Regions from separate parts of the Homo sapiens genome. Here region 1 is linked to region 2. The links come from fine-mapping of genetic effects on plasma protein levels. A gene starts in region 2. The other region holds a variant in brackets. All regions are shown on one strand. Distances are from middle to middle.

The links. PIP is the chance, under the fine-mapping model, that this variant and not a neighbour inherited with it causes the effect. The UK Biobank Pharma Proteomics Project read protein levels with antibody pairs (Olink). The fine-mapping took linkage between variants from a reference panel, not from the people measured, so its PIPs are less certain.
Region 1: its variant is fine-mapped to the plasma level of the FSTL3 protein (UK Biobank, PIP above 0.99).

What each region holds. Positions count from the first base shown.
Region 1 is chr19:684,915-699,614 of GRCh38, reverse strand. It overlaps PRSS57 (serine protease 57), which reads left to right and starts at 4,163. Exons shown (of 5, transcript NM_001308209.2): 1 at 4,163-4,263; 2 at 4,648-4,801; 3 at 7,613-7,757; 4 at 12,427-12,690; 5 at 13,693-14,069. The coding sequence starts at 4,185. The coding sequence ends at 13,899. It also overlaps the pseudogene RPS2P52. The variant C/TTC (reference allele first, on the strand shown) is at 9,306.
Region 2 is chr19:665,488-679,876 of GRCh38, reverse strand. FSTL3 (follistatin like 3) reads right to left here and starts at 3,485. Exons shown (of 5, transcript NM_005860.3): 1 at 3,351-3,485; 2 at 1,900-2,085. The coding sequence starts at 3,453. RefSeq lists a silencer at 1-174 and an enhancer at 629-1,131.

The DNA.
Region 1 (14,700 bases), 20 kb before region 2:
TCCAGCGGCTCATGGGTCAAGACCCTGTGCTGTGTGGCCCCAGACAAATCGGCTCCCCTCTCTGGGCCTCAGTTTGGGAAGTGGGAACAGTGACCCCCACTCAGCCCCCTCCTCAGGGCTGCCAGGAGCTCGGTTTTCTGAGACGCTGGAGGACGGTTGTTTATTTCACAACTGTTCACCAAAAGGGAAGGAAATGGCCCAGCTCTGGATAGAATCGGTCCCGAGAGGCAGTGGGAGCTCCTCTGAGGCAGCAGCCCCGGCCCCCTGGCTCCTCACTGTGTGGCAGGGCTAAGGCGCTTACCCTCTCCCTACTGTGTCCCCATCAGCGACCGGGACAGGGACAGCATCGTGAGGGAACAAAGTTCCACACGCCTGCAGCTTCGGGCAATTCTCCTTCTAACGCCCGTGGAGCTGGGGACGTTTTCCAGGTCTCTGCCTCAGTGCTCCGCGACGGAGGGCAGCAGGGGAGGTAGGAGCAAGTCCAGGGGACCCACTCGTGCTGACGCGACGACCGTGGAGACCAGAGTGCCTGCTGTCCAGTCGTTTGACAATATTGACGGACAGCCGGGTGCGATGGCTCACGCCTGTAATCCCAGCACTTTGGGAGGCCGAGGCAGGCCGATCACTTGAGCTCAGGAGTTTGAGACCAGCCTGGGCAATATGGCAAAACCCATCTCTACCAAACAAATAAAACAAAACAAAACAAAAAAACACAAAAATTAGCCGGGCGTGGTGGCAGGCACCTGTAATCCCACCTACTTGGGAGGCTAAGGCAGTAGGATCGCTTGAACTCAGGAGGCAGAGGATGCAGTGAGCCGAGATCAAACCACTGCACTCCAGCCTGGGCGACAGAAGGAGACCCTGTCTCTAAAAGATAAAAACAGGGCCGGGCGCAGTGGCTCATGCCTGTAATCCCAGCATTTTCGGAGGCCAAGGCGGGCGGATCACGAGGTCAGGAGTTCAAGACCAGCCTGGCCAACATGGTGAAACCCCATCTCCACTAAAAATACAAAAAATTGGCCGGGCGTGGGGGCAGACGCCTGTAGTCCCAGCTACTGGGGAGGCTGAGGCAGGAGAATCGCTTGAACCCGGGACACTGAGGTTGCAGTGAGCTGAGATCACGCCACTGCACTCCAGCCTGGCGACAGATCGAGACTCCATCTAAAAAAAAAAAAAAAAACACCCACACACAAAAAAACAATATTGATGGAGCACGGCCCATGCGGTCACAGCGATGCCAGACGGTCCAGTAGACCACAGCAGAGCAGGAAATGGTCCCCAAGTACACGGACCCTGAGCTGGGGTCCCACCTGTCCCCAGGCCCTGGAAACAGCTTTCCATTTCCCAAAATCTTTCCTGCAGCTGCTGTAACGAATTCCCAGAAACGTAGTGGTTTAAAATGATACCAACTTGGGCCAGACATGGTGGCTCACACCTGTAATCCCAGCACTCCGGGAAGCCGAGGCTGGAGGATTGCTCGAGGCCAGGAGTTCAAGACCAGCCTGGGCAACATGGCAAAACCCCGTCTCCACAAAAAATGAAATAATGAGCCGGGCCTGGTGGTGGCAGGTGCCTGTGGTCCCAGCTACTTGGGAGGCTGAGGTGGGAGGATGGCTTGAGCCTAGGAGGTCGAGGCTGCAGTGAGCTTTGATTGCACTGCTGCACTCCAGCGTGGGCGGCAGAGCAAGACCCTGTCTCCCTGTCTCAAAATAAATATATACATAATAAATGAGGCTGGGCGCGGTGGCTCACACCTGTAATCCCAGCACTTTGAAAGGCTGAGGCAGGCAGATCACGAGGTCAGGAGATTGAGACCATCCTGGCTAACGTGGTGAAACCCCATCTCTACTAAAAATACAAAATATCAGCCGGGCGTGGTGGCGGGCACCTGTAGTCCCAGCTACTTGGGAGGCTGAGGAAGGAGAATGGCATGAACCCAGGAGGCGGAGCTTGCAGTGAGCCGAGATCGCACCACTGCAGTCTGGCCTAGGCGAAAGAGCGAGACTCCATCTCAAGAAAATATAATAATAATAATAATAAACGAAATGGCACCAATTTATTCTCTGGCAGTGCTGGAGGTCAGAAGCCCCTGCAGGCCCTTCTGGGCTAACGTCAGGGCATCGGTAGGGCTGGCTTTTCCCGGAGGCTCCAGGAGAAAATTCGTTTCCTGCCGTTTTTTAGCTTCCAGAGGCCGCCCGCATCTCGCAGAGCCCGAGTTCGTTGTGGGGCCTTTTCATACCTTCCTTTCCACGCATTTCCTGTTGCTTCATTTCACTTCATTCTTTATTGAGAACACTTTACATTTGGTAAAACACAGGTCTGGAGCGTTCAATGATGACTTTTTTTTTTTTTTTTTTTTTGAGATGGTGTCTCGCTCTGTCACCCAGGCTGGAGTGCAATGGTGCAATCTTGGCTCACTGCCACCTCCACCTCCCGGTTCAAGCGATTCTCCTGCCTCAGCCTCCCAAGTAGCTGGGATTACAGGCACCTGCCACCACGCCTGACTAATTTTGGTACTTTAAGTAGAGACGGGGTTTCACTATGTTGGCCAGGCTGGTCTTGAACTCCTGACCTCAGGTGATCCACCTGCCTCGGCCTCCCAAAGTGCTAGGATTATAGGCGTGAGCCACTGCACCCGGCCCCAGCCTGTTCATTATTAAGCGCTGACGAGCACCCCACTGCTAGCCACTGCCGTGAACGCCATCACCCGGCTGTGTGAGCTGCAATTTACGACCTGAACTTTGCCACTAAGAACGCTCCCACTGAAAGGTGAAGACCTGCCGGGCTGGGCGCGGTGGCTCAGGCCTGTCATCCCAGCACTTTGGGAGGCTGAGGCAGGTGGATCACCTGAGGTCGGGAGTTCGAGACCAGCCTGACCAACATGGAGAAACTCCGTCTCTACTAAACACACAAATTTAGCGGGGCGTGGTGGTGGGCACCTGTAATCCCAGTTACTCAGGAGGCTGAGGAAGGAGAATCCCTTGAACTCAGGAGACAGAGGTTGCGGTGAGCCAAGATCGCGCCACTGCACTCTAGCCTGGGCAACAAGAGCAAGATTCCTTCTCAAAAAAAAAAAAAAAAAAAAAAAGGCCGGGCACCGTGGCTCATGCCTGTAATCCCAGCACTTTGGGAGGCCGAGGCGGGCGGATCATGAGGTCAGGAGATCGAGACCATCCTGGCTAATATGGTGAAACCCCGTCTCTACTAAAAATACAGAAACAAAATTAGCCGGCTGTGGTGGCGGGCGCCTGTAGTTCCAGTTACTCGGGAGGCTGAGGAACGAGAATCACTCGAACCCGGGAGGTAGAGGTTGCGGTGAGCCGAGATGGTGCCATTCCACTCTAGCCTGGGCAACAAGAGCAAGACTCCATCTCAAAAAAAAAAAGAAAAGAAAAAAAAGGTGAAGACCCCCATGTACAGCCATGTCCCACTGGACTCCGGATCCCACAGAACGTCAGTGCTACAGGCTGGGGTGCGGTCACTGCCTCATCCTCACCTCCTAGCATGAGGTCTGGTATACACTAGGCACTCAATAACTGCTGAATAAAGGCAGAAATCTGCCAGGTGCAGTGGCTGTCTTCTGTGATCTCAGCACTTTGGAAGGCCGAGGAGGGAGGATCGCTGGAGCCCAGGAGTTCGAGACCAGCCTGGGCAACATAGCAAAACCCCACCTATAAAAATAAAATAAAATAAAGGCAGAAATCATCAGAGCTTCCCAGGAGACCGGCCTTCCTCGCTGTCCCCACAGCCCTGAGGTCGGCCCTGGGTTTGGAGATGGGAAGACTGGGGTTTGCGGGGTGGGGGCCGGAGGCGAGCTGCGGGTCTCGAGTGCCGCTGTGACCTCGGTTCCTCGGAAAGCTCCCCACACATGCTGGGCCACGTGGAGGCTGGGTAAACTGAGGCACAGAAGGGTCAATTGCCTTCCCGAGGTCACTTGCAGCCCCAGAGCTGTCTCCTCCTCTCCCTGTTTCCGGACTAGGGGACAATGATTATTATCAACATGATTATTACCAGCCACCACCTGAGACCATCGATTTCTCAGAAACGCCCGCCTGGGCTCCAGGCGTTGCTGGTGGGGCCTCCCGACCACAGGCCACAGCCAGGCTCCCCCTTTCCGGCCGTTGGCTGAGGGTGGGAGCCACGGCCCGAAGACCTCTGCGGGGAGACGCCAGCCTGCGTCTGCCATGGGGCTCGGGTTGAGGGGCTGGGGACGTCCTCTGCTGACTGTGGCCACCGCCCTGATGCTGCCCGTGAAGCCCCCCGGTGAGGAGCCCCCCGGGATCCCCACCCAGGCCCCCGCCAAGTCCCCGTACGGGGGCCACACCCGGGAACCCCCAGTCCCGGGAGAACCCTGGGGAGAGCTCCACCTGCTCCATCTGCCGAGCCCCCGTGGCTGCCTCTGCTGGAAATGGATGGAAATCCGGCCGGGGTCTCTGCCCAGCCCAGCCCTGGATCTCCCGGGCTCGGGAGCCCCTCCCAGCGCATCTGGGGGGCTTGTCTGGGCTCTGTCTCCAGCTCTCTGGGTCTCTCCGTCTCTAATCTCACCCCCTGTCTCTGTCTTGGCCGCTACTTCTCCCCCTGCCCTGACCCCAGCCCCGTCATCCGTTCCTCCCGCCTCGTCCCTGACTCAGGCCGTCCCTCCAGCAGGCTCCTGGGGGGCCCAGATCATCGGGGGCCACGAGGTGACCCCCCACTCCAGGCCCTACATGGCATCCGTGCGCTTCGGGGGCCAACATCACTGCGGAGGCTTCCTGCTGCGAGCCCGCTGGGTGGTCTCGGCCGCCCACTGCTTCAGCCACAGGTGAGCTCACCTGTCGGGCCCCTTCTTTCTGGACACCGTATCCCGACATGAGGGGGACTCCAGGCTGGTGGGGGAGCTGGGGGCGCCGTGGCTCCTGCAGGAGGGGGAGTCTCAGCAGGGGCTGGATTTAAAGGGCAACAAAGGGAAAACAGGAGGATAAGGCAGGGAGGCAAAAGAAGCACAGAAGAAGCAACAGGCGCAACAAGTACATATTCTGTTACTGTAACTGTCACTATGTTCTTTTTTTTTTTTGAGGCAGTCTCGGTTCCCCAGGCTGGAGTGCAACGGTGCAATCTCGGCTCACTGCAACCTCCACCTCCCGGGCTCAAGCGATTCTCCTGCCTCAGCTTCCCGAGTAGCTGGGATCACAGGCGCCCACCACCACACCTGGCTAATTTTTGCATTTTTAGTAGAGACTGGATTTCACCATGTTGGCCAGGCTGGTCTCGAACTCCTGACTTCAAATGATCCACCCGCCTCTGCCTCCCAAAGTGCTGGGATTGCAGGTGTGAGCCGCCATGCCCTGCCTCGTTTTAAACATATTGTTATAATAACTATTAAAATGTATATTGGGGCCAGGGTGGGTGGGTCCCCTCCTGCAGGAGCCCCCACCAGGCACGGGATAGGTTGGTCCTGGGCTGCAGTGTCCCCAGCTCCCCCGCCAGCCTGCAGTCCCCCTCACGTTGGGACACGGTGGATTGTTTGAGGTCAGGAGTATGAGACCAGCCTGGCCAACATGGTGAAACTCTGTCTCTACTAAAAATACGAAAATTAGGCTGGGTGCGGTGGCTCATGCCTGTAATCCCAGCACTTTGGGAGGCCGAGGCAGGAGGATCACGAGGTCAGGAGATCGAGACCATCCTGGCTAATACAGTGAAACCCCATCTCTACTAAAAATACAAAAAAATTAGCCGGATGTGGTGGCAGGCGCCTGTAGTCCCAGCTACCCAGGAGGCTGAGGCAGGAGAATGGCGTGAACCCGGGAGGCGGCGCTTTCAGTGAGCCGAGATCGCGCCACTGCACTCCAGCCTGGGGGACAGAGCGAGACTCTGTCTCAAAAAAAAAATACGAAAATTAGTTGGGCATGGTAGCAAGTGGCTGTACGTATCCCCAGCTACTCGGGAGGCTGAGGTAGGAGAATCACTTGAACCCAGGAGGTGGAGGTGGCAGTGAGCCGAGATGGCACCACTGCACTCCAGCCTAGGGGAAAGAGTGAGATTCTGTCGGAAAAAAAAAAGTTAATTGTGGTTTTTGCCATTTAATTTTTTTCGTGCAATTACTTTTGCACCAACCTAATATTATCACGGGGCCGGCGTGAGCATTAAATGGATTACTGGGCCTCCATTTCATAGATGAGTGGACTGAGGCCCAGACGGGCAGCCGTCACCCCCATCTCACCCACCCCCTCCTCCCCGCAGAGTCCTCCGCACCGGAGCTGTGCTTCTGTGGTCCCAGCTACTTGAAAGGCTGCTGTGGGAGGATCGCTTGAGCCTGGGAGGTCGAGGCTGCAGTGAGCTGTGATCACACCACTGCGGCCTGGGTGACAGAGTGAGACCTTGTCTCAAAAAAAAAAAAAAAAAAAAGGCCGGGTGCGGTGGCTCACGCCTGTAATCCCGGCACTTTGGGAGGCCGAGGCAGGCGGATCACGAGGTCAGGAGATCGAGACTGTCCTGGCTAACACGGTGAAACCCTGTCTCTACTAAAAAAAAATACAAAAAATTAGCCGGATATGGTGGCGGGCGCCTGTAGTCCCAGCTATTCAGGAGGCTGAGGCAGGAGAATGGCGTGAACCCGGGAGGTGGAGCTTGCAGAGAGCCAAGATTGCACCACTGCAATCTTGCCTGGGTGACAGAGCGAGACTCCGTCTCAAAAAAAAAAATTAAAGAAATAAAAAAAGGAGAATATTGAAATTACTGTAGTTAATATTATAATTGAAATAGAACTTATAATAAATATAATAAGTATTATCTTCATTCTAAATATGTTTTTATAATAATGATTCAAATTAATACCACAACTATTGCAGTTAATTCTATATTGGAGGTAGGAAAAATAATAAACATAATTATTAATTTATTATCATAATATTAAGTTGGGGGCTGGGCACCGTGGCTCACGCCTGTAATCCCAGCACTTTGGGAGGCCGAGGCAGGTGGATCACTTCAGGTCAGGAGTTCGAGACCAGCCTGGCCAACATGGTGAAACCCTGTCTCTACTGAAAATACAAAAATTAGCTGGGAGTGGTGGCGCACGCCTGTAGTCTTAGCTGCTTGGAGGGCTGAGGCAGGAGAATCACTGGAACCCAGGAGGCAGAGGTTGCAGTAAGCCTCGATTGCACTCTAGCCTAGGGGACAGAGTGAGACTCTGTCTCAAAAAAAAAAAAAAAGAAAAAAGGAAAAGAATATTAAGTTGATGCAAAAGTAATTGTTTTTTTTTTGTTTTTTTGAGACGGAGTCTTGTTCTGTCGCTCAGGCTGGAGTGCAATGGTGCAATCTCAGCTCACTGCAACCTCCGCCTCCCAGGCTCAAGCAATTCTCCTGCCTCAGCCTCCCGAGTAGCTGGGATGACAGGCATGTGCCACCACACCTGGCTAATTTTGTATTTTTAGTAGAGACGGGGTTTCTCCATGTTGATCAGGCTGGTCTTGAACTCCCGACCTCAGGTGATCCACCCTCCTCACCCTCCCAAAGTGCTGGGATTACAGGCGTGAGCCACCGTGCCCGGCCTGGGCCTCCGTTTCATAGATGAGTGGACCGAGGCCCAGGACGGGCAGCCCTCACCCCCGTCTCACCCACCACCTCCTCCCTGCAGAGACCTCCGCACTGGCCTGGTGGTGCTGGGCGCCCACGTCCTGAGTACTGCGGAGCCCACCCAGCAGGTGTTTGGCATCGATGCTCTCACCACACACCCCGACTACCACCCCATGACCCACGCCAACGACATCTGCCTGCTGCGGGTGAGCCCCGGGGGTGGATCTGACGTATGTTTAGTTTTTGAGACAGTCTCTCGCTCTGTCGCTCGGGCTGGAGGGCAATGGCGCAATCTCGGCTCACTGCAACCTCAGCCTCCCGGGTTCAAGTGATTCTCCTGCCTCAGCCTCTCAAGTACATGGGATTACAGGTGCGCGCCACCAAGCCCATCTAATTTTTGTATTTTAGTAGAGACGGGGTTTCACCATGTTGGCCAGGCTGGTCTCAAGCTCCTGACTTCAAATGATCCACCTGCCTCGGCCTCCCAAAGGGCTGGGATTACAAGCGTGAGCCACCGAGCCCGGCCTACTTTTCTTTTCTTTTCTTTTTTTTTTTTTTTGAGTCAGAGTCTCGAACTGTCACGGGGGCTGGAGTGCAATGGCGCCATCTCGGCTCACTGTAACCTCCGCCTCCCAGGCTCAAGTGATTCTCCTGCCTCAGCCACCCAAGTAGCTGGGATTACAGGCACTCGCCACCAGACCTGGCTAGTTTTTTGTGTTTTTAGTAGAGATGGGGTTTCACTATGTTGGCCAGGCTGGTCTCGAACTCCTGACCCAGTGATCCACCCACCTCAGCCTCCCAAAGTGTTGGGATTACAGGCGTGAGCCATCGTGCCTGGCCATTTTTTTTTTCCAGGCTTAATTCACTTTATTTTTCGTGTATAAAACCCTATGTTGTAACCACAGCTGGAGCCGGGCGTCTGCACGGAGACTCTGGTGTGAGTCTTCACAAGATGGCCAGTGAATACCTGAAAGAGAGACTTGGGGAATACAGAGGTCAGGGGTCAGGCAGCTGTAGGTCTTAGAGAGGATATCAGAGGCGGCCTTGGCAAAGTGGCCCAGGGTGGCAGTGCAGCCCCTGGCTAAGGTGTAGCAGTCACCGATACCAGCCATCATGAGCAGCTTCTTGAGCACAGGCGCCCAGACGATGCCAGCGCCCCGGACACGGGGATCAGGCACACCAGCGCAGAGCCGCAGCGGCCTGTCACCTTGCCAGGGACGGTGTAGGGCTTGCCGATCTTGTTCCCCCAGTAGCCTCTGTGCATGGGGACAACGGAGAGCTTGGCCAGGATGACGGCCCCGATGATGGCAGTGGCTACCTCCTTGGAGCACTCAACACCCAGACCGACGTGGCCATTGTAGTCCCCGGTGGGAACAGACGCCTCGAACCTGGTGCGCTGGCCGGTGCGGATCTGCTTCTGCACCGGCATAATCTCCAAAACCTCGTCCTGGAGAGAGGCCCTCAGGAAAAGGTCAATGATCTCAGATTCCTTGATGGGCAGGGAGAAGAGACAGATCTCCTCCAGGGACATGATCTTTATGTCCTTGACCAGGCGGCCCAGCTTGGTGACAGGCGTCTACTCCTTATCCTCTGTCTTGCCTCTGTGAGCTCCGCGGCCCCAGCCCGGAAGCCAGTGCCGAAGCCTCGGGGGAAGCCAGCGCCGTTCCCCATCCCAGGGCCGCCCCACTGCACCGACGTCATCCGCCGTTTAGTGTTTTCCAGGAGAAGCAGCCCTGGGCTATTTTTTTTTTTTT[C/TTC]AGACAGTATCTCCCTGTGTCCCCAGGCTGGAGTGCAGTAGCACGATCTCGGCTCACTGCAGCCTCTGCCTCCCAGGTTCAAGCGATTCTCCTGCCTCAGCCCCCCGAGTAGCTGGGATTACAGGCGCCCGCCACCACGCCCGGCTAATTTTTGTATTTTTAGTAGAGATGGGGTTTCACCATGTTTGCCAGGATGGTCTCGATCTCTTGACCTCGTGATCCGCCCACCTCTGCCTCCCAATCCTGGCCTATTTTTTGAGACGGAGTCTCACTTTGGCACCTGGGCTGGAGTAAAGTGGCACAGTCAGGGCTCACTGCAACCTCCATCTCCCGGGTTCAAGCGATTCTCCTGCCTCGGCCTCCCGAGTAGCTGGGATCACAGGCACCCACCACCACACCTGGCTAATTTTTGTATTTTTAGTAGAGATGGGATTTCACCATGTTGGCCAGGCTGGTCTTAACTCCGGTCCTCAAGTGATCCGCCCACCTTGGTCTCCCAAAGTGTCGGGATCACGGGCGTGTACCACTGCGCCAGGCGAATTTTTATATTTTTAGTAGAGACGGGGTTTCACCATGTTGCCCAGGCTGGTCTTGACCTCCTGGACTCAGGCAATCCTCCTGCCTCAGCCCCGCAAAGTGCTGGGATTACAAACCTGAGCTGCTGCGCCTGGCCTGACTTAGGTTTTAAAGACAGTTGGACGTCAGGTCCCATTCCTCCTGTGCCCTGGACCCCCCAGTGGCTCCCACCTCCTGCAGGACAAATCCTCCTGGTGCCCACAGGCCCTGCTAATCCATGCCTGTCACCTTTCTGACTCGAGGCCAGCAGACCTCCCGGATGGGCCATCCCATCCCCAGCACAGTCTCCGCTCCGAGCTCTGCACCAGCTGTACCCAGTGCACCAGTTCCCCAGACACCGCGAGCCTTTCCCCTCACGCCTGTCAAGTCTTTGCTCAAATGTTACCTTCCCAGGAGGCCGCCCTGGACCACATACCCCCTCCCTGCAACCCTGTTCCAGCCCCGTCATCACCTGCTAACCCCTGGACCACCCTTCCGGCCCCGTCATCTCCTGCTAACCCCTGGACCACCCCGTCGTCACCTGCTAACCTGTGGACCACCCTTCCAGCCCCGTCGTCACCTGCTAACCCCTGGACCACCCTTCTAGCACCGTCGTCACCTGCTAACCCCTGGACCACCCTTCCGGCCCCGTCGTCACCTGCTTGTCACCTGCTAACCCCTGGACCACCCGCTTCCTCATTCCCGCTTCCTCTGAACCTAACGGGCAGGGATTTTTTATCACCTTTATGGCCATTTATGGCACACAGCAGGCGCTCAAAGTTTATGCTGAAATGGAATGAATGTGCCTCTCGGGCCCCTGCCCTGTGTGGAGGAGACGCTTAAAGTCCCTGTGTGGGGCCGGGCGTGGTGGCTCACACCTGTAACCCCAGCACTTTGGGAGGCCGAGGCGGGTAGATCATTTGAGGTCAGGAGTTTGAAACCAGACTGGCCAACGTGGTGAAACCCCATCTCTACTAAAAATAAAAAAATTAGCTGAGCCTGGTGGTGGGTGCCAGTCATCCCAGCTACTCGGGAGGCTGAGGCAGGAGAATCACTTGAACCTGGGAGGCAGAGGTTGCCGTGAGCCGAGATCGTGCCACTGCACTCCAGCCTGGGTGACAGAGTGAGACTCCATCTGAAAAAAAAAAAAAAGTCCCTGGGTGGAGTCCTCCGGGTGGGAAGCTGCTCCTCCCACACGTGGTGCATCCATGCAGACCCGCCTGGCCCCCTCCTGCTCGAGGGACGACCCCTTCCCTGACGCTTCTACCCAGCATCCCAAAATTAAATTCCAGAGGCTGAGGCAGGAGAATCGCTTGAACCCGGGAGGCGGAGGTTGCCGTGAGCCGAGATTGCGCCACTGCATTCCAGCCTGGACAACAGAGCAAGACTCTGAAAAAAACAAAAAAAAAAGGAGGAGGAGCAAGTGCCAGTAGCCAAAGCTTTTGGGTGAATTTTTCTCATCTGTGAAACCCTGAAGCCTGGAACCAGCGCTGGTTCACCCAGAGGCCATCGCACAGATGGGGAAACTGAGGCTGAGCGAGACATCAAGAATGTCAGGAATGAACCCAAGACGCACAAATCAGAGAACCAGAGACAGGGATTGGAGCCGTCCTTCCCAGGCCCATTAACTGAGCATCAGCTGTGTGCCAATTGCCAGGGCCAGGGCCAGAGGCCCGGTGCTGGGCCACACAGAGCCCGGGGTGTCACTCAGTCTTCACTGGGTAAACCGGCCTCAACAGGCTGCAGGGAGCCCAGAGAAGACTCACGTGCCAGCCTGGGAGTCTGGGAAGACTTCCTGGAAGAGGTGGCATCCATGCTGAGATGGCTGAATAGGAAAAGTGTTTCAGGCTGGGGGTCTGGTGTGAGGGGAGGTGTGTGGCAGGCCCAGGGAGTAGCTGTAAATTCATCCTGCCTGGCCAAAGGGGAGGCTGAGGCTGGAGAGCCCTCAGAGGCCCTGGCTGGTGAGCAAAGAGGTTTTGTCTTGAGGGCAATCGGGAGCCGTGGGAGGGCTTAGAGTAAGGAAGGAGATGGAGTTTGAAAGACTCTTTGAGGCTGGGCGCGGCGGCTCACTCTGTAATCCCAGCACTTTGGGAGGCTGAGGTGGGTGGATCACCTGAGGTCAGGAGTTTGAGAACAGCCTGGCCAACAGGGTGAAACCCCGTCTCTACTAAAATACCAAAATTAGCCAGGTGTGGTGGTGCACGCCTGTAATCCCAGCTGCTTGGGAGGCTGAGGCAGGAGAAATCGGTTGAACCTGGCAGGTGGAGGTTGCAGTGAGCCAAGATTGTGCCACTGCACTCCAGCCTGGGCGACAGAGCGAGACTCCATCTCAAAAAAAAGAAAAGAACAGAACAGAAAGACCCTTTGGGCAGCTGACGGTGACCCTGGAGGCCTGAGGGGTAGGGGCCTGTGTTGGCAGAAGGAACGGGGCCTCCTGACCCGGCCTCATGGTGGCCGCCATTGATTTTGCTTCACAAGGGCAGGACCAGGGGTCCCATGGATAAACTGAGGCAGGAGCGGGGGTGGGGAGGGAGCCCAGTGGCCTGAACTCATGCTCTCCCTGCAGCTGAACGGCTCTGCTGTCCTGGGCCCTGCAGTGGGGCTGCTGAGGCCGCCAGGGAGAAGGGCCAGGCCCCCCACAGCGGGGACACGGTGCCGGGTGGCTGGCTGGGGCTTCGTGTCTGACTTTGAGGAGCTGCCGCCTGGACTGATGGAGGCCAAGGTCCGAGTGCTGGACCCGGACGTCTGCAACAGCTCCTGGAAGGGCCACCTGACACTTACCATGCTCTGCACCCGCAGTGGGGACAGCCACAGACGGGGCTTCTGCTCGGTAAGATCCCCTCCCTGCTCCACCCACTTACTGTGTGGGGAAACCAAGGCCCACAGAGAGGGTCAGGGCCAGGAAGGGCCTTGGGAACTGAGTCCCATTGATGTTGGACCAGACGGAGAAGCTGAGGCCCAGGGAAGGCAGGGAGTTGGCAAGGGTCATGCAGGGCTGCCATGTTCAGCTGTGCAGGTTGCGCACTGCACAAAGAGCCAAGCACTTGTGTATTTATACAAGCAGTATTCAGTAGAGGGTAGTAACAGATTGAGAGGAAGCAGCTCCCACTCCTAAAACCTTGCCAGATAAACGAATCCCCAGGTGCCAAGGGAGACACTGGCCCTGGAGGGTCTTTTACCGCAGGCAAGAGAGCGACTTGGTTCAGGACACACACTTAGCCCAGCAGCCCGAGTCCAGGAGAAATGAGACTGTCCACTTTCCCGATGCGTGACCTTGGAAAAGTCACTTGATTTCTCTGGGCCTCTTTTTCTCCATCTGTAAAACTGCTACACTATTAGTATCCAGTTGATGGTATCAGAGCGGATTCTAGATGGCAGGAGGGTAGGATGAGGGATTTTAGGGTGAGTATACGGGGAGCCCTCTCCAAGGAGAGCACCTTTGAGCTGAGACTTGAAGGAATCCTTAGAAGATCTGAGGAAACACACGCAAGGCAGAGAGACCTGTTAGTAGAGGGCTGCCGCGTACAGCTGTGTAGGTTGTGCACTGCCCAAAACACTGCAGACTCGAATGTTCACACAGGCAGCATCCAGCGCAGGGCAGGAACAGGTCTCCAGGCTATACAAAGGCCGTGGAGCACTGAGGAGGCTCAGCGGGGAGGGCAGAGAAGTGGGTGGGGGCTGGGTCCTCAGGGCCTGGAGGGGAGAAATGAATTTACTTTTTCCTTGGAGAGCAGTAGGGAGCCACAGAGGGTTCTGAGGCAGGGAGGGCCGTGGTGAGATGTGCCTGCAGCAGCTCCCAGAGGCCCTGACCTCACCTCTCCTTTCACTCCAGGCCGACTCCGGAGGGCCCCTGGTGTGCAGGAACCGGGCTCACGGCCTCGTTTCCTTCTCGGGCCTCTGGTGCGGCGACCCCAAGACCCCCGACGTGTACACGCAGGTGTCCGCCTTTGTGGCCTGGATCTGGGACGTGGTTCGGCGGAGCAGTCCCCAGCCCGGCCCCCTGCCTGGGACCACCAGGCCCCCAGGAGAAGCCGCCTGAGCCACAACCTTGCGGCATGCAAATGAGATGGCCGCTCCAGGCCTGGAATGTTCCGTGGCTGGGCCCCACGGGAAGCCTGATGTTCAGGGTTGGGGTGGGACGGGCAGCGGTGGGGCACACCCATTCCACATGCAAAGGGCAGAAGCAAACCCAGTAAAATGTTAACTGACTTCCAGCCTCACCCGTGGGCGGTCAGCTGCAGGGTCCACCGGCATTCGTGTCGCGGCTCGGTCCGCAGCCCCTTTCCACCTTCCCATGCCCCCCACCGTGAACCCCTCTGGGTCTACCCCTGCGCCCCTGCAACCCACACTCCTGCAGCCTCCCACCTGGAATGCCGTTCCTCCACCTCCCTCCAGCCGCCTAACCACACCGCAGGCGAGTCCGCTGGGAAACGGAGGCCAGGAAGCCCTGAGCTCCCTGTGCAGGGCGTGGGGGCTGCTGGACACCAGGGCGGGCTTGCACCGGCCGCGCCGAGGAGTCCCAAGAGGGTCTGGCCACACATCAAGCCTCGTGGTCATCCTCTGAAAACCAGAGAATAGCGCGGGGTGCACAGCAAGTCCCAGGTGATGTTATTGTCACAGTTTGTTATTGTGTTATTATTTTTTTATTTTTAGATTTTATTTTCTTTATTATTATTTTATTTTTTTATCTTTACTTATTTTTATTTTGGATGGAGTCTCGCTCTGTCCCCCAGGCTGGAGTGCAGTGGTGCGATCTCGGCTCACTGCAAGTTCCGCCTCCCGGGTTCACACCATTCTCCCGCTTCAGCCTCCCAAGTAGCTGGGACTACAGGCGCCCGCC
Region 2 (14,389 bases):
AGCCTGGGGTGTTCCGCCCTTGCCAGGCGCGAGTCTGGGGCTGCCAGGACCTTCCCCCAGGAGGCGTCGGGGAGGGCGGGGCGCTGGACGGCCCTCCTGGCCTGGGGAGCGATTCCAGGGGAGGGGGCCCCCCACAGCCCTAGGCCTCTGAACCAGGAGCTGCCCCGCAGCCCCGCTGCTCAGACAGGGATATTGAGGTCCTGCTAGGGAAGCTCTCTCTGGGGTCCCCGCCCCCGCTTTCAATGTGAATGCTCATCGCCTCCTAGGCTTATCGCATCTTCCCAAGTCATCATTTTACAGATGGGGAAACTGAGGCCGGGTCGCAGCTATGAGTGCAGGGGCCCAAGCACCTCAGTTTGAAAGCTGCAGCCAGGACCCAGATGACCAACCCCCTTTCTGTTATCTGGGGGTCTGGTAGGGCCTCTGAACACAGCTGTTGAGTTTATGTGCCAGCCTCAGTTTCTCTGTGTGTAAAGTGGGGCTGACGAGGGAGCCCCACTTCCAAGGCAGTGCGGCACTCCTTAGGGGATGGCCAGCGCCCGCCACGCAGCCCTTGCAGGGCATGTGGGCCGCACCTGGGCGGCCCCGGCACAGCGGCTCACAGGCACATCTGGAAATGCTCGGCCAGGGTGGCTTTTATGCGAGCGAGAACGGAAGGGGGCCTGAGTTCCGTCCCCAGGGCCAGATGAGGTTGGGGGTGGGGGGTCCTGGGCCGTCTCATGCCCAGGCCAGGCACTTTTTGAAGACTGTCCTTCTCCCAGAAGCCAGAGGGGGGTCTGGAGGGAGCAGGGGTATGTGGCAGTGAGTTCAGGACCACCCAGCCAGGCTGATCTGGGATTAATCACATCTCAGAGGCCAGCAGAGTTCCTCAGCCTGGCCTTCGGGTCTGCAGCCCTCAGCTTCAGCCTCCCCTTGGCTCCTCTGCCTGACCCCACCCACCAGGACCTAACCTCAAGCCATGTTCTCTCCTGATCCACTCTCCCATACCGGCCCCATCTGGCAAACTCCTAGACATCCCCCAACACCCCAGCTCTAATGCCCACCTCCTTCAAGATGTGCCCCAACAGGCCAGGCATGGTGGCTCACGCCTGTAATCCCAGCACTTTGGGAGGCCAAGGCTGGCAGATCACTTGAGGTCAGGAGTTTGAGACCAGCCTGGCCAATGTGGTGAAACCCTGTCTCTACCAAAAACATAAAAATTAGCCAGGTGTGGTGGCGCGCGCCTGCAGTCCCAGCCCCTGGGGAGGCCGAGGAAAGAGAATCACCTGAACCTCGGAGGCCGAAGTTGCAGTGAGCCAAAATCGCACCACTGCACTCCAGCCTGGGTGACAGAGCGAGGCTCCATCTCAGGAAAAAAAAAAAAAAAAAAAAAAAAAACCATCATCCTCCAGTGCGGAGAATCTTATTCATTCGTTCTGTGCCACTCGCCAACCAAGAGCCCCTAGTCTGATGTGGGAGGCATCCTCTCAAAACAGGGTCCCGAGGCAAATGCTTGTTAAACATGCAGCTGTAACCCCACCGCAGACCCTGGAGTCTGCAGTGAAGGTCCCTGGTGTGGACATTTGGGGTCACAGGCCAGAATGGCAAACCCACCTTCCCAGGAGCTAGGTGCAAGCCAGACATTTATCGACCAGGTGGGAAGAGCCACCCAGGCAGAGAGCTCAGCCCCAGCAAAGGCTGGAGCCACGTGGTCTCTTCCTGAGTCCTGAGCTGCAAGAGGCTGGAGCCTGGGAACCGGGAAGTCCCCCCAGTCCCTCTCTGAGGCTGGGATCCCCCTGCAGCCTCCTACATACCCCTGTGACGGGCTCAGTCCCTGGACGTTCGGCCCTCGACCACCATGACTGTTTGTGGCTGGTCCTGAGCTGAGACGTCTGCCCTGCTTCTGGCCTGAGGTCTCACCTTTGCAGGGAAGGCAGTGGACAAGGCCCAAGAAGCCGAGGAGGTTGATCTTGTTCCCCGGGTGGGTGAGGTTGGACCAGGCGGTGTCAATGTTGCCGGAGGCACAGCACTCGGCCCGGGTGACATCAGTCTGGAGCACCAGGCTGCAGGTGGCCTCCTGGCCCTGCTGGAGCCAGCAAACACCACCTGCGGGCCGGGGAACGGGGTGCTCTCCTGGGCCACTCCTGACACCCAGCTTCTGGCCCGCCCACAGATGCATGCAGGTGGTGCTGAGTAGTTACGCACGGAATGATCTACCCCCACCCAGGAAGAAGGGGCAGAAAACCACATGGGTGTCCCCACCCTGGCTCCAGAACCCTGGAAATGTCTCCTCCCCTCTGAGCTCCACGTGCCCCCCCCCACAGCCTCACCACCAACCCCCACCCACCCCAGGAGGTCCCTTCCCGTACCCTCCAAGCCCCCAGGCCAGGGGCTGGCACCCTGCCCAACCCCTCAAACACCACCAAACACCAGGCACTGGGCATGTCAGGGTCAGCAGGCCCTGGAGCCGCTTCTCCCGCCTCTGCCCTCTGTCTAGACAGCACCCGAGGGCGAGGGCACGCGGAGCCCCGCGCCTGGCAGCCCCCCCACCGCCTGGCCCGCCTCTTACTCACTCCAACTTGGGAACATTCCCCTTGCATGAGCTCACTGTCTCCCCAGGGACGTGGCCTTCGGGGAGGGGGCTCTGCTCTCCCTTTGGCGCAGGGCTGGGGTGGGGTGGGGCTGCAGGGATGGGGGGTGGGGAGCCAGAGAGCCCCCCATTTCTTCCCCCGTCCCTGGGGGCAGGAACGGCCACAGCCCCCATCCCAGAGCGCTTGCTGGTTCACAGACACTGCCAGGGACCAGCTTGTGGAACGCAGCACCTTGGCACCCATCATAGGAGGGGAAACTGAGGCCAGGAGTGGGGCCGTCTCCTGCCTGGCACCTCCCGGCAAGTCCCAGGTGTGAGACTCCATGCCCCGTCTACCCAGGACCCGGGAAAGCTCTCAGCCCCAGCTGGAGGGCCTGGCTCCCGACACCCAGCACTACCTCTCGGCACCAGGACCGACCCGGACGGTCGCGGCTAGAACCCTGGCTTTGCCTGCTACAGGCTGTGTGACCCTGAGCCTCAGTTTCCCCATCTGGAAGACGGAGATGAAGAGAGCTCCGGCACTATCGGGATGGCACAGGTTCAGGGAGGGGAGAGGTAGACACTAAGCGCTCAATAAATGTCAGCGGTCATTGTGATTAGAAACCTCTGCTCTGCTGACCTCTTGGTGACCCTCCTTCAGACCTTCCCGGCTCCAGCTTGCGCCGGACACCGCCCTCGCCCCCGCCGCCGCCGCCGCGCCCCCCGACGTCCCCCCGGCCGCATTCCGCGCAGCCCCACGTGGGTGGCCCGCCCCGCCCGCCCCTCTGGCCGCCCCACTCACCGGGCGCGGGGTTCCCCGAGCCCATGGAGCTCACGAAGCCCACGGCCCAAGCCAGGGCCCCCCAGGGCAGAGGCCAGAGTGGCCCTGGCGCCCCGGGACGCATGGCGAACGCAGAGACGGCAGCGGCACCGACTTCCCAGCGCGCGGCCGGCGCTCCCTATAAAGGTCCCGCGGGCCGCGGGCGGGGCGGGGCGCGGGGCGGGGCGCGGCGCGGGAGTGGCGGGGGCGAGGCCGTGTCCCGCGCGGGGTGGGCAGGCGCCGGGCCCGGCCGCTGCGGGGGGCAGTTGGGGGCGAGCGCCCGGGTCCCCTTCCGGAGCCAGAGAATGCATTTGGGGAGATGTGGCTGGACCCAGGGCGGAACCGGGACAGGGGTGTGGGTTCGAGGTGGTGGCAGCCTTTTGGGTGGATCGAGGGGCCGTCTCCAGGAATTAAAGTGGGTTTGGGGGTCTTCAGTTTCAGGGGTGGCGGTGAGGTAACGGGGACCCAAGAGGAGCACGTCTGTGGATCCCTGCATCCCGTTTCTGTGATTTGCATGTGGTCACTTTCATGGTCCAAGTGTGGTCTGAGCCCCCCAACCCGGCCTCCTTGTTCCCGACCCGCCCCACACACCCAAAACCTCAGCTGGATATGGTTCCCTGCTCACAGCGCGGGCCGCGCACCCGTCCACCTGGCCGCTGGAGCCGGCCTGTGGGTGGGGAGTGGTTGGGTGTGGGACAGAACGGGGTGCGGCCGGGACAGACCCAGAGACACAGCTCCTTCCAGCATCTCGGACAACAGCAGGCCTCGCCCAGCCACGGCCCCCAGGGAGGCCACTGCGTGTGTGTGTGTGTGTGTGTGTGTGTGTGCGCGCGCACGCCTGGCCTTTGTCCTGGGCCCCTGGGCAGCTCTGCCCCATCAGCCCTCCAAGCCTTTGCAGACATTCCCCCAGATCACCTCAACAAGAATGTTTACTAGGTTTTTTCCTCTCCCTCCAAGATTCAGCAAACACTGTTTCCAGCAGAGGCGTTTCCAACAATGTATGACAGCGACATCTGCGTGGGCCTGGAGGCGCTGCGCCCGAGGGGGCTTTCGTGCAGCCAGACACATTTCCTACTCTGGAGCTGATTCTGTCATGGGGGCCTCCAGATTTGTCAGGCGCCCTTGGCGAGCGCAGGGGAGCCCCTCTGTTCCTGCTTCTAGGGCATCAGTGAACATCTCTTTTGGCCAGAGGGACCCTGCGGGGTGCTGGGGTGCCACGGTGACCAAGGCAGACCCCATCACACCCTCACCGAGCTCCTGGTTTGGACAACAAAATGCAGAGACAAATTAATCTATAACTTCAAGGAGTGGTAAATGCTTTCAGGAAAATACAGAAGGTTGAGGTGGTGGAGAGCGGTTGGGTGTCTGCTGGGCATGCCTGTGTCTGGCCACTCGCTGTGCCGGCATTGCCCACCCCGCAGGTGGAAACGGACGTGTCCAGCAGCCCCACGGCACAGCCCCTTCTCTGGCCTGAGTGAGATCTGTGCCCACAGAAGACACACCTGTACCCTTTCCTCCACCTTAGCTGCCCAGCCTGTGTCCCCCAGCAGCCAGTGGCCAGGGGCCAAGTTCTGCCTTAGTGGCACTGAGGGGGGACACCCCGCCGTCTTGACCTGGCCTTGGCCTCTGGCATTTCCCCCGGGAATCTCCCCGGCTTGGGGAGCAGGGCAGGGACGGGACCCTGTATTCTCACTGAGGGGGGACACCCCGCCGTCTCGACCTGGCCTTGGCCTCTGGCATTTCCCCCGGGAATCTCCCCGGCTTGGGGAGCAGGGCAGGGACGGGACCCTGTGTTCTCACTGAGGGGGGACACCCCGCCGTCTCGACCTGGCCTTGGCCTCTGGCATTTCCCCCGGGAATCTCCCCGGCTTGGGGAGTGGGGCAGGCACAGGACCCTGTGTTCTCACTGACGGGGGACACCCCGCCGTCTCGACCTGGCCTTGGCCTCTGGCATTCCCCCGGGACTCTCCCGGGATTGGGGAGTGGGGCAGGGATGGGACCCTGTGTTCTCACTGAGGATGTGCGGGGGCTGGACAGTGTGACCTTGGCCAAGACCTGACCCCGCCGTGGCTTGGCCACTCCGGCCTGGGCTGTGCGAATCAAAGGGTCATTGTCTGGCTGGCGTGGGTTCCGGCCCTCTCCGGGGAAACCGAGGCCAGCTGCCAGTGGCCTCCTGCTCCCGGCTCTGTCTTCCCTAACCCAGAGGCTCTGTGCAGGGTGACCTCTAACAGGTCACTGACCCTTTCCAGAGCGCCGCCTCCTCCTGAGACCCCAGTGATGACCTCCCCTCTCCCGGCTCTGCCCCTCTCCCCACCCTATCCAGGCCCGAGGCTCATCCTAGGACTTCCAGCCCGCAGCCTGGCCCCTGCGGCCCACTTCCTACCCCAGCTGCCATAACACTTCTCCCTGGCTCAGACACCCACCGTGGCTCCTCGTGGCCTCTGCTCACCCCCCAGGCTTCTGTCTCCCTCCAGGTACATCCTGACAGGTAAACAGACAGTGACAATCCAGTGTTGTTCTGTGGCGGAGGATGCCCAGATGGCAAAGGTGCCCCAGGCCTGACCCGGGCCTGGGGGAGACTGAGGAAGGCTTCCCAGAGGAAAGAGACGTTGAGGTTGAGACTCGAACGTCAGACGGAGCGGCAGGGGTGTGCGCTGGAAACAGACGCTTGTGCTGTGAGTGAGGGGGAGAGCAGTGGGGGGTGGTCAGCAGAACGGCGGTCCCAGAGACCATGGGGCCCTCATCCCTAGAACCCGTGGGTGTCCCACCCTCCCTGGCCAAAGGGGCTCTGCAGATGGGACTGAGTTGAGGGCTTTCACACAGGGGTTCATCCTGGGTTATACGGATGGCCCACTGTCCTGGAAGGGTCCGTAGAAGAGGAGATGCCTGGCCGGGCGCGGTGGTTCACACCTGTGAACCACCAACACATTAGGTTCACACCTGTGAACCTCCAACACATTAGGAGGCCGAGGCAGGCAGATCACTTGAGGTCAGGAGTTCGAGACTAGCCTGGCCAACATGGTAAAACCCTGTCTCTACTAAAAATACAAAAAAATTAGGTGGGCCTGGTGGTGTGCGCCTGTAATCCCAGCACTTTGGGAGGCCGAGGCAGGAGGATCACTTGAAGTCAGGAGTTCGAGACTAGCCTGGCCAACATGGTAAAACCCCGTCTCTACTAAAAATACAAAAAAATTAGGTGGGCCTGGTATTGTGCACCTGTAATCCCAGCTACTTGGGAGGCTGAGGCAGGAGAATCACTTGAACCTGGGAGGCAGAGGTTGAAGTGACCCGAGATCGTGCCACTGCACTGCAGCCTGGGTGACAGAGCGAGACTCTGTCTCAAAAAAAAAAAAAAAAAAAAGGAGACGCCTGCCCTCTATGGTTAGAGACAGGATAAGAGAAGGACTTGGCTGCCATTGCGGGATTTGGAGATGGAGGAAGGGGGCTCAAGCCAGGGAATGTGGGCGGCCTCTAGGAGCCTGGAAAGGCGCGGAACAGATTCTCTCCTGGAGCTGCCAGAAGGAATGCAGCTCTGCCAACACCTCGATCTTCTCCCAGCCAGACCCGTGTGGAACTTTTTTTTTTTTTTTTTTGAGACGTAGTCTCGTTCTGTTGCTTAGGCTGGAGTGCAATGGCGCGATCTCGGCTCACTGCAACCTCCGCCCCCGGGTTCAAGCAATCCTTCTGCGTCAGCCTCACGAGTAGCTGGGATTGTAGGCACCTGCCACCACAACTGGCTAATTTTTGTATTCTTAGTAGAGACGCGGTTTCGCCATGTTGGCCAGGCTGGTCTTGAACTCCTGACCTCAGTGATTCACCCGCCTTGGCCTCCCAAAGTGCTGGGGTTACAGGTGTGAGCCACCATGCCTGGCCATTTTTATTTTTTTGAGACAGGGCCTCACTCTGTTGTCCAGGCTGGAGTGCAGAGGTGCGATCTCGGCTCACTGCAACCTCAGCCTCCAGACTAAGTGGGATTACAGGCGCCTCCCACCACACCCGGCTACTTTTTTTTTTTTTTTTTGCAGTGACGGGATTTTGCCATGTTGGTCAGGCTGGTCTCAAACTCCTGACCTCAGGTGATCTGCCCATCTTGGCCTCACAAAGTGCTGGGATTACAGGCATGAGACACTGCGCCCAGCCCGTGTGTTGCTTTAAGCCAGGCAGTTTGTGCAAATTTGTTATAGCAGCCGTGGGTGCCCACTGTGTGCCAGGCCCTGGGACCCTTCTAGGCCTGTTTTCTTTTTCTTTCTTTTTTTTTTTTTTTGAGACAGAGTTTCGCTCTTGTTGCCAAGGCTGGAGTGCAGTGGCGCAATCTCGGCTCACTGCAACCTCTGCCTCCCGGGTTTAAGCAATTCTCTTGCCTCAGCCTCCTGAGTAGCTGGAATTACAGGCATGCACCAGCAGACCCAGCTAATTTTTTGTATTTTTAGTAGAGATGGGTTTCACCATGTTGGCCAGGCTGGTCTCGAACTCCTGACCTCTGGCGATCCAGCTGCCTTGGCCTCCCAAATTGCTGGGATTACAGGCGTGAACCACCGTGCCCAGCCTATGCCTGTTTTCTTATCTGTAACATGGGCACAGACCCCAGTGTTAGAGGTTCCAGGTGGGATGTGGACAGTGCCAGGCGCACAGTAGGGCCATGGCGTGCATAGATTCCTGTTAATTACCCAGTCAATGGGTGCTCGTGCAGAACGGGACCATGGTGAGTCCCCTTTGCTGCTTGCTGGGAGGCTGTGAGGCAGGCGCCCCATTTATAGGGATGAGGTTGGAGGGTGGGAAGTGATTTTCTTGGAGTCACACAGACCTGCAGAGTCAGGACTAGGGTCAGCACCAGGTTCAGAAGCTTCCAGGACCCCTGTGCCTCCCATGGACCACACGACGAGGGCCAGCCTGGGGCTGGTTCCCCCTTTCTGCTCCCACTACTGCACTCCAGCCCGGGTGACAGAGTGAGACTCTGTCTCAAAAAAAACACAAAACCACCAGGACGAGTCAGTCCTGGAATTTTTTTTTTTTTTTAAGATGGAGTCTTGCTCTGTTGCCCAGGCTGGAGTGCAGTGGCGTGATCTCAGCTCACTGCAACCTCTGCCTCCCAGGTTCAAGCGATTCTCCTGCCTCAGCCTCCCGAGCAGCTGGGACTATAGGCGCCCACCACCACGCCTGGCTAATTTTTGTATTTTTAGTAGAGACAGGGTTTCACCATATTGGCCAGGCTGGTCTCGAACTCCTGACCTCATGATCCGCCGGCCTCGGCCTCCCAAAGTGCGGGGATTACAGGTGTGAGCCACCACGCCTGGCCAACGGCCCTGGAATTTTGCTGGGAGAGGGACAGGGACACCTGCTTCCTGCTGGGGCTGGAGAGGTGTGAGCCTGAAATTGCAGGTGGCTCTTTCTGATGGCTAGGGAGAGGCCAGCCCCGTGGGCCACAGAGCCAAAGGGGACAGCAACAATTCCCAGTGACATTGGAGGTCCCTGGATCCAGCTGTGCCTGAACTCCTCCTCCGCAGGGAGATGAAGCCAGTTTAAACCGAGTTTCTGTACCTTGGAGCTGATAATAATAACCATCTTTGTAGTCAGCAGGTTTGCATTCATGCAAGGAGAGCCTTTAGGACCCAGAGCAGCGTGTTCTGTGGGGCTCTAGGGAGCTCACCCTGCGGTACCACCTTCGGCCTCCAGGATGGGAAGCGGGTTGTGGCTTGGTACAGAACAGTCAGGGACACCCGGTCCCACCTTCCTGAGCCCAAAGATACTTGGCATTGGCTTACTGTCTATTGTCTGCAGCCTCTGAGCTAGAACTTGCCAACCCCTGGGCTCCAGGAGGCAAAGACTTGCTGGACTCCGGAGCCTGTGATGCTGATAACATGGCTCAGGCCTGAAGGCCTGGCCTGGTGGGCGGTGTGGGAACACTGGGAAGTGAGCTGGGCCCTAAAACAACCCCATCAGCCGGGTGCGGTGTGAGCTGGGCCCTAAAGCAACCCCACTGGCCAAGTGCCACGGCTCACATCTGTAATCCCAGCACTTTGGGAGGCTGCGGCGGGCAGATCATTTGAGGTCAGGAGTTTGAGACCAGCCTGGCCAACATGGTGAAACCCCGTCTCTACTAAAAATACAAAAAAAATTAGCCGGGCGAGGTGGCACACTCCTGTAATCCCAGCTACTCGGGAAGCTGAAGCAGGAGAATCACTTGAACCCAGGAAGCGGAGGCTGCAGTGAGCCAAGATCGCGCCACTGCACTCCAGCCTGGGTGACAGTGAGACTTCATCTCAAAAAACAAAACAGCTGGGCGCAGTGGCTCACGCCTGTAATTCCTGCACTTTGGGAGGCTGAGGTAGGCAGATCACTTAAGGTCAGGAGTTTGAGACCAGTCTGGCCAACATGGTGAAACCCCATCTCTATTAAAAATACAAAAATTAGCTGGGTGTGGTGCCGGGTGCCTGTAGTCCCAGCCACTCAGGAGGCTCAGGCAGGAGAATTGCTCGAACCTGGAGGGCAGAGGTTTTGGTGAGCCGAGTTCGCACCACTGCACTCCAGCCTGGACAACAGAGCGAGACCCCCGTCTCAAAAAAAATAAATAAATAAGGCCAGGTGAGGTGGCTCACGCCTGTAATCCCAGCACTTCGGGAGGTGGAGGCGGGTGGATCACGAGGTCAGGAGATCGTGACCATCCTGGCTAACACGGTGAAACCCCGTCTCTACTAAAAATGCAAAAAATTAGCCGGGCATGGTGGCGGGCGCCTGTAGTCCCAGCTACTCGGGAGGCTGAGGCAGGAGAATGGCGTGAACCCGGGAGGCGGAGCTTGCAGTGAGCCGAGATGGCACCACTGCACTCCAGCCTGGGCGACAGAGTGAGACTCCATCTCAATAAATAAATAAATAAATAAATAAATAAATAAATAAAAGAAATCTGACATGTATCGGGGGGACCCATTCCCCCCATATTTCAATATAAATTCTTTCTATTTTCCATAAGTGTCGGCTGGCTGAGAAATAAAGAGGAAGAGTACAAAGAGAGGAATTTTACAGCTGGGCCGCCGGGGGGTGACGTCGCATGTCGGTAGGATCGTGCTGCCCCCTGAGCCTTAAACCAGCAAGTTTTTTATTAAGGGTTTCAAGAGGGGAGGGGGTGTGAGAACATGGAGTAGAGCTCATGCTTCAAAGGGCAAAAAACAGAACAAAGATCACTTGCTTCTGAGGGAACAGGAGAAAAGGCAACACAGAACTACTGATAAGGGTCCATGTTCAGCGGTGCACGTATTATCTTGATAAACATCTTGAACAAAAAATAGGGAAACGTCTGACCACAAATTCACCAGGGTGGAGTTTTTCCCCACCGTAGTAAGCCTGAGGGTACTGCAGGAGATCAGGGCGTATCTCAGTCCTTATCTCAACCACGTAAGACAGACATTCCCAGAGCAGCTGTTTATAGACCTCTCCCCAGGAATGCATTCCTTTCCCAGGGTATTAATATTAATATTGCTTGCTAGGAAAAGAATTTAGCGATATCCTCCCTACTTGCATGTCCTTTTATAGGCTCTCTGCAAGAAGAAAAATATGGCTTTTTTTGCCTGACCCTGCAGGCAGTCAGACCTTATGGTTGTCTTCCCTTGTTCCCTAAAATCGCTGTTATTCTGTTTTTTCTCAAGGTGCACTGATTTCATATTGTTCAAACACACGTTTTACAATCAATTTGTACAGTTAACACAATTATCACGGTGGTCCTGAGGTGACATACATCCTCAGCTTACGAAGATAACAGGATTAAGAGATGAGAGTAAGACAGGCGTAAGAAATTATAAAAGTATTAATTTGGGAACTGATAAATGTCCATATTAAAATGAAATCTTCACAATTTATGTTCCTCTGCCACAGCTCCAGGCGGTCCCTCCGTTCGGGGTCCCTGACTTCCCGCAACAGACATGAGTCTTGCTGGGCTAAAATCAAGTGTGTTTGGGGACTTTATTTATTTATTTTGAGGTGAAGTCTCTCACTCACTCTGTCTCTCAGGCTGGAGTGGAGTGGTGCAATCTCAGCTTACTGCAACCTCTGCTCCCGGGTTCAAGTGATTTTCATGCCTCAGCCTCCCGAGTACCTGGGATTACAGGCAGGCACCACCATGCCCGGCTAGTTTTTTTTTTTTAACAAGATGGAGTTTTGCTCTTGTTGCCTAGGCAGGAGTGAAATGGCAAGATCTTGGCTCACTGCAACTTCTGCCTCCCAGATTCAAGCGATTCCCCTGCCTCAGCCTCCCGAGTAGCTGGGATTACAGATGCCTGCTACCATGCCTGGTTAACTTTGTATTTTTAGTAGAGACAGGGTTTCTCCATGTTGGTCAGGCTGGTCTCGAAGTCCCAACTTCAGATGATCCACCCACCTCGGCCTTCCAAAGTGCTGGGATTACAGGCATGAGCCACTGCACCCGGCCATTTTTTTTTTTTTTTTTTTTTTTTTGTTAGTAGAGATGGGTTTCACCATTTTGGCCAGACTAGCCTCGAACTCCTGACCTCAAATGATCCACCCGCCTCAGCCTTCCAAAGTGCTGGGATTACGGGAATGAGCCACCGCCCCTGGCCCAGTTTGGGGCCTTTACTCTTCCGATCATGGTGCTCGATACTGTTGGGTGGATGGCTGGTTTCAGCAGACGTTTGTGGCACAGGCCCCGCTCCTGGCACAGAGCGGAGGCTCCACGACACTTGATGAAGCAACGGTGGCCCAACCCCTGCCAGGATGAGGGTGGAGGGAGGAACTGTTTCCTTCCTCAGGAGGCAGCCACAGTCCAGTCCCAAAGCTGCCGCCTCAGGCAATCGGCTTCCTCCCTGGGCCTCAGTTTCCTCATTGGTGCAATGGGGCCAGCTGCAGTTATTTCTTCCCAGGGGGGTTGGGAGAAGTGAATACACAACCACTAGGTCTACCTGGGACGTGGTCTGCCTGGGCTTGGTCTGCCTGGGACGTGGTCCACCTGGGCTTGGTCCGCCTGGGACGTGGTCTGCCTGGGACGTGGTCCGCCTGGGCTTGGTCTGCCTGGGACGTGGTCTGCCTGGGACATGGTCCGCCTGGGACGTGGTCCACCTGGGCTTGGTCCGCCTGGGACGTGGTCCGCCTGGGACGTGGTCCACCTGGGCTTGGTCCGCCTGGGACGTGGTCCGCCTGGGACGTGGTCCGCCTGGGCTTGGTCCGCCTGGGACGTGGTCCGCCTGGGACGTGGTCCGCCTGGGACGTGGTCCGCCTGGGCTTGGTCTGCCTGGGACGTGGTCCACCTGGGCTTGGTCTGCCTGGGACGTGGTCCACCTGGGCTTGGTCTGCCTGGGACGTGAGAATGAGCTGTCAACACACCTCTCTGCCCCGGAGGGAGTGGCGCGTGTCATTCCTTTAGGAGTCCTCTCGTCTCATGTTTGCCGAGGCCCCCAGGGTTCACGGGGACGGGATCCTGAATTGAAAAAGGGGCTAAGAGAGCTCACGGAACCAAGCCCACACCTGTCGAGGTCCCTGGTGAGAGGAAATGGGAGAAACGGTGCCGTCTGTGGAACCAGGGTGGCCGGTGGGGCCTGGGGCAGGGTGCAAGTGTGTGCATTTGTGTGCAGCAGTGTCAGTGCCCACTGGCCGATTTGATCAATGTGCTACTGCCTTCAGGGAAGAGCAGCCTGCTTTTTGGTGTGTTTGGGATAAAGGGGTGGCCGGGCACTCTGGCTCACACCTGTGATCCCCACACTTTGGGAGGCCAAGGTGGGAGGATCCCGTGAGCCCAGGAGTTGGAGATCACTCTGGGCAACATAGCCAGATCCTATCTCTACAAAATAAAAATTTAAAACGATTAGCCTCACGCCTGTGATCCCAGCACTTTGGGAGGCTGAGGTGGGCGGATCACCTGAGGTCAGGAGTTGGAGACCAGCCTACTTAACATGGAGAAACTCCGTCTCTACTAGAAGGACAAAAATTAGCCGGGCGTGGTGGCACATGCCTGTAATCCCAGCTACTTGGGAGGCTGAGCCAGGATAATCGCTTGATCCTAGGAGGCAGAATTTGCAGTGAGCCCAGATCATGCCACTGCACTCCAGCCTGGGCGGCAGAGGGAGACCCATCTCAAACAAAACAAAACAAAACAAAACAAAACAAAAAAGATGGGGTCTCCATCTGTGGCCCAGGCTGGAGTGCAGTGGTCCGATCTCAGCTCACTGCAACCTCTGCCTCCTGCTCAAGTGATCCTTCTGTCTCAGCCTCCTGAGTAGGTGGGATCACAGGTGCCCGCCACCACACCTGGCTAATTTTTGTATTTTTAGTAGAGACACGGTTTCACCATGTAGCCCAGGCTGGTCTTCAACTCCTGGACTCAAGTGATCCTCCTGCCTCAGCCTCTCAAGGTGCTGGGATTACAGGCATGAGCCACTGTCCCCGGCCTAATTCTATTTTTGTAGAGACAGGGTCTCACTATGTTGCTCAGGATGGTTTTGAACTCCTGGTCTCAGGCGTGAGCCACCTCGCCCTGCTTAGTTTGATACAAAATCCCTACGTTCCTTCTCATTCCCACTGTGTTTCCAGCACCTGCTTGAGCCCAGCACACAGTAGACACTCGGCAACTGTTGGTGCATTTGGGAATCTACTGAACACCTACTGGTGCGCTGGGTATTGGCCTCACATATGGGGAGACGCCATTAATAACCCACAGATGTGAGGATGGCTGTGGGGGATGGAAAGGGGGCTCTGAGAAGTGGGGTGCAGTGGTGGATGGGGCAGCCTCCTAAAAACCAGGGGAAAGGGCCGGGCGCGGTGGCTCACGCCTGTCATCCCAGCACTTTGGGACGCCGAGGTGGGCGGATCACCTGAGGTCAGGAGTTCGAGACCAGCCTGGCCAACATGGCGAAACCCCAGCTCTACTAAAAATACAAAAATTAGCCGGGCGTGGTGGCGCATGCCTGTGATCCCAGCTACTCGGGAGGCTGAGGCAGGAGAATCGCTTGACCCCTGGAGGCGGAGGTTGCAGTGAGCTGAGATCGCACCATTGCACTCCAGCCTGGGCAACAGAGTGAGAC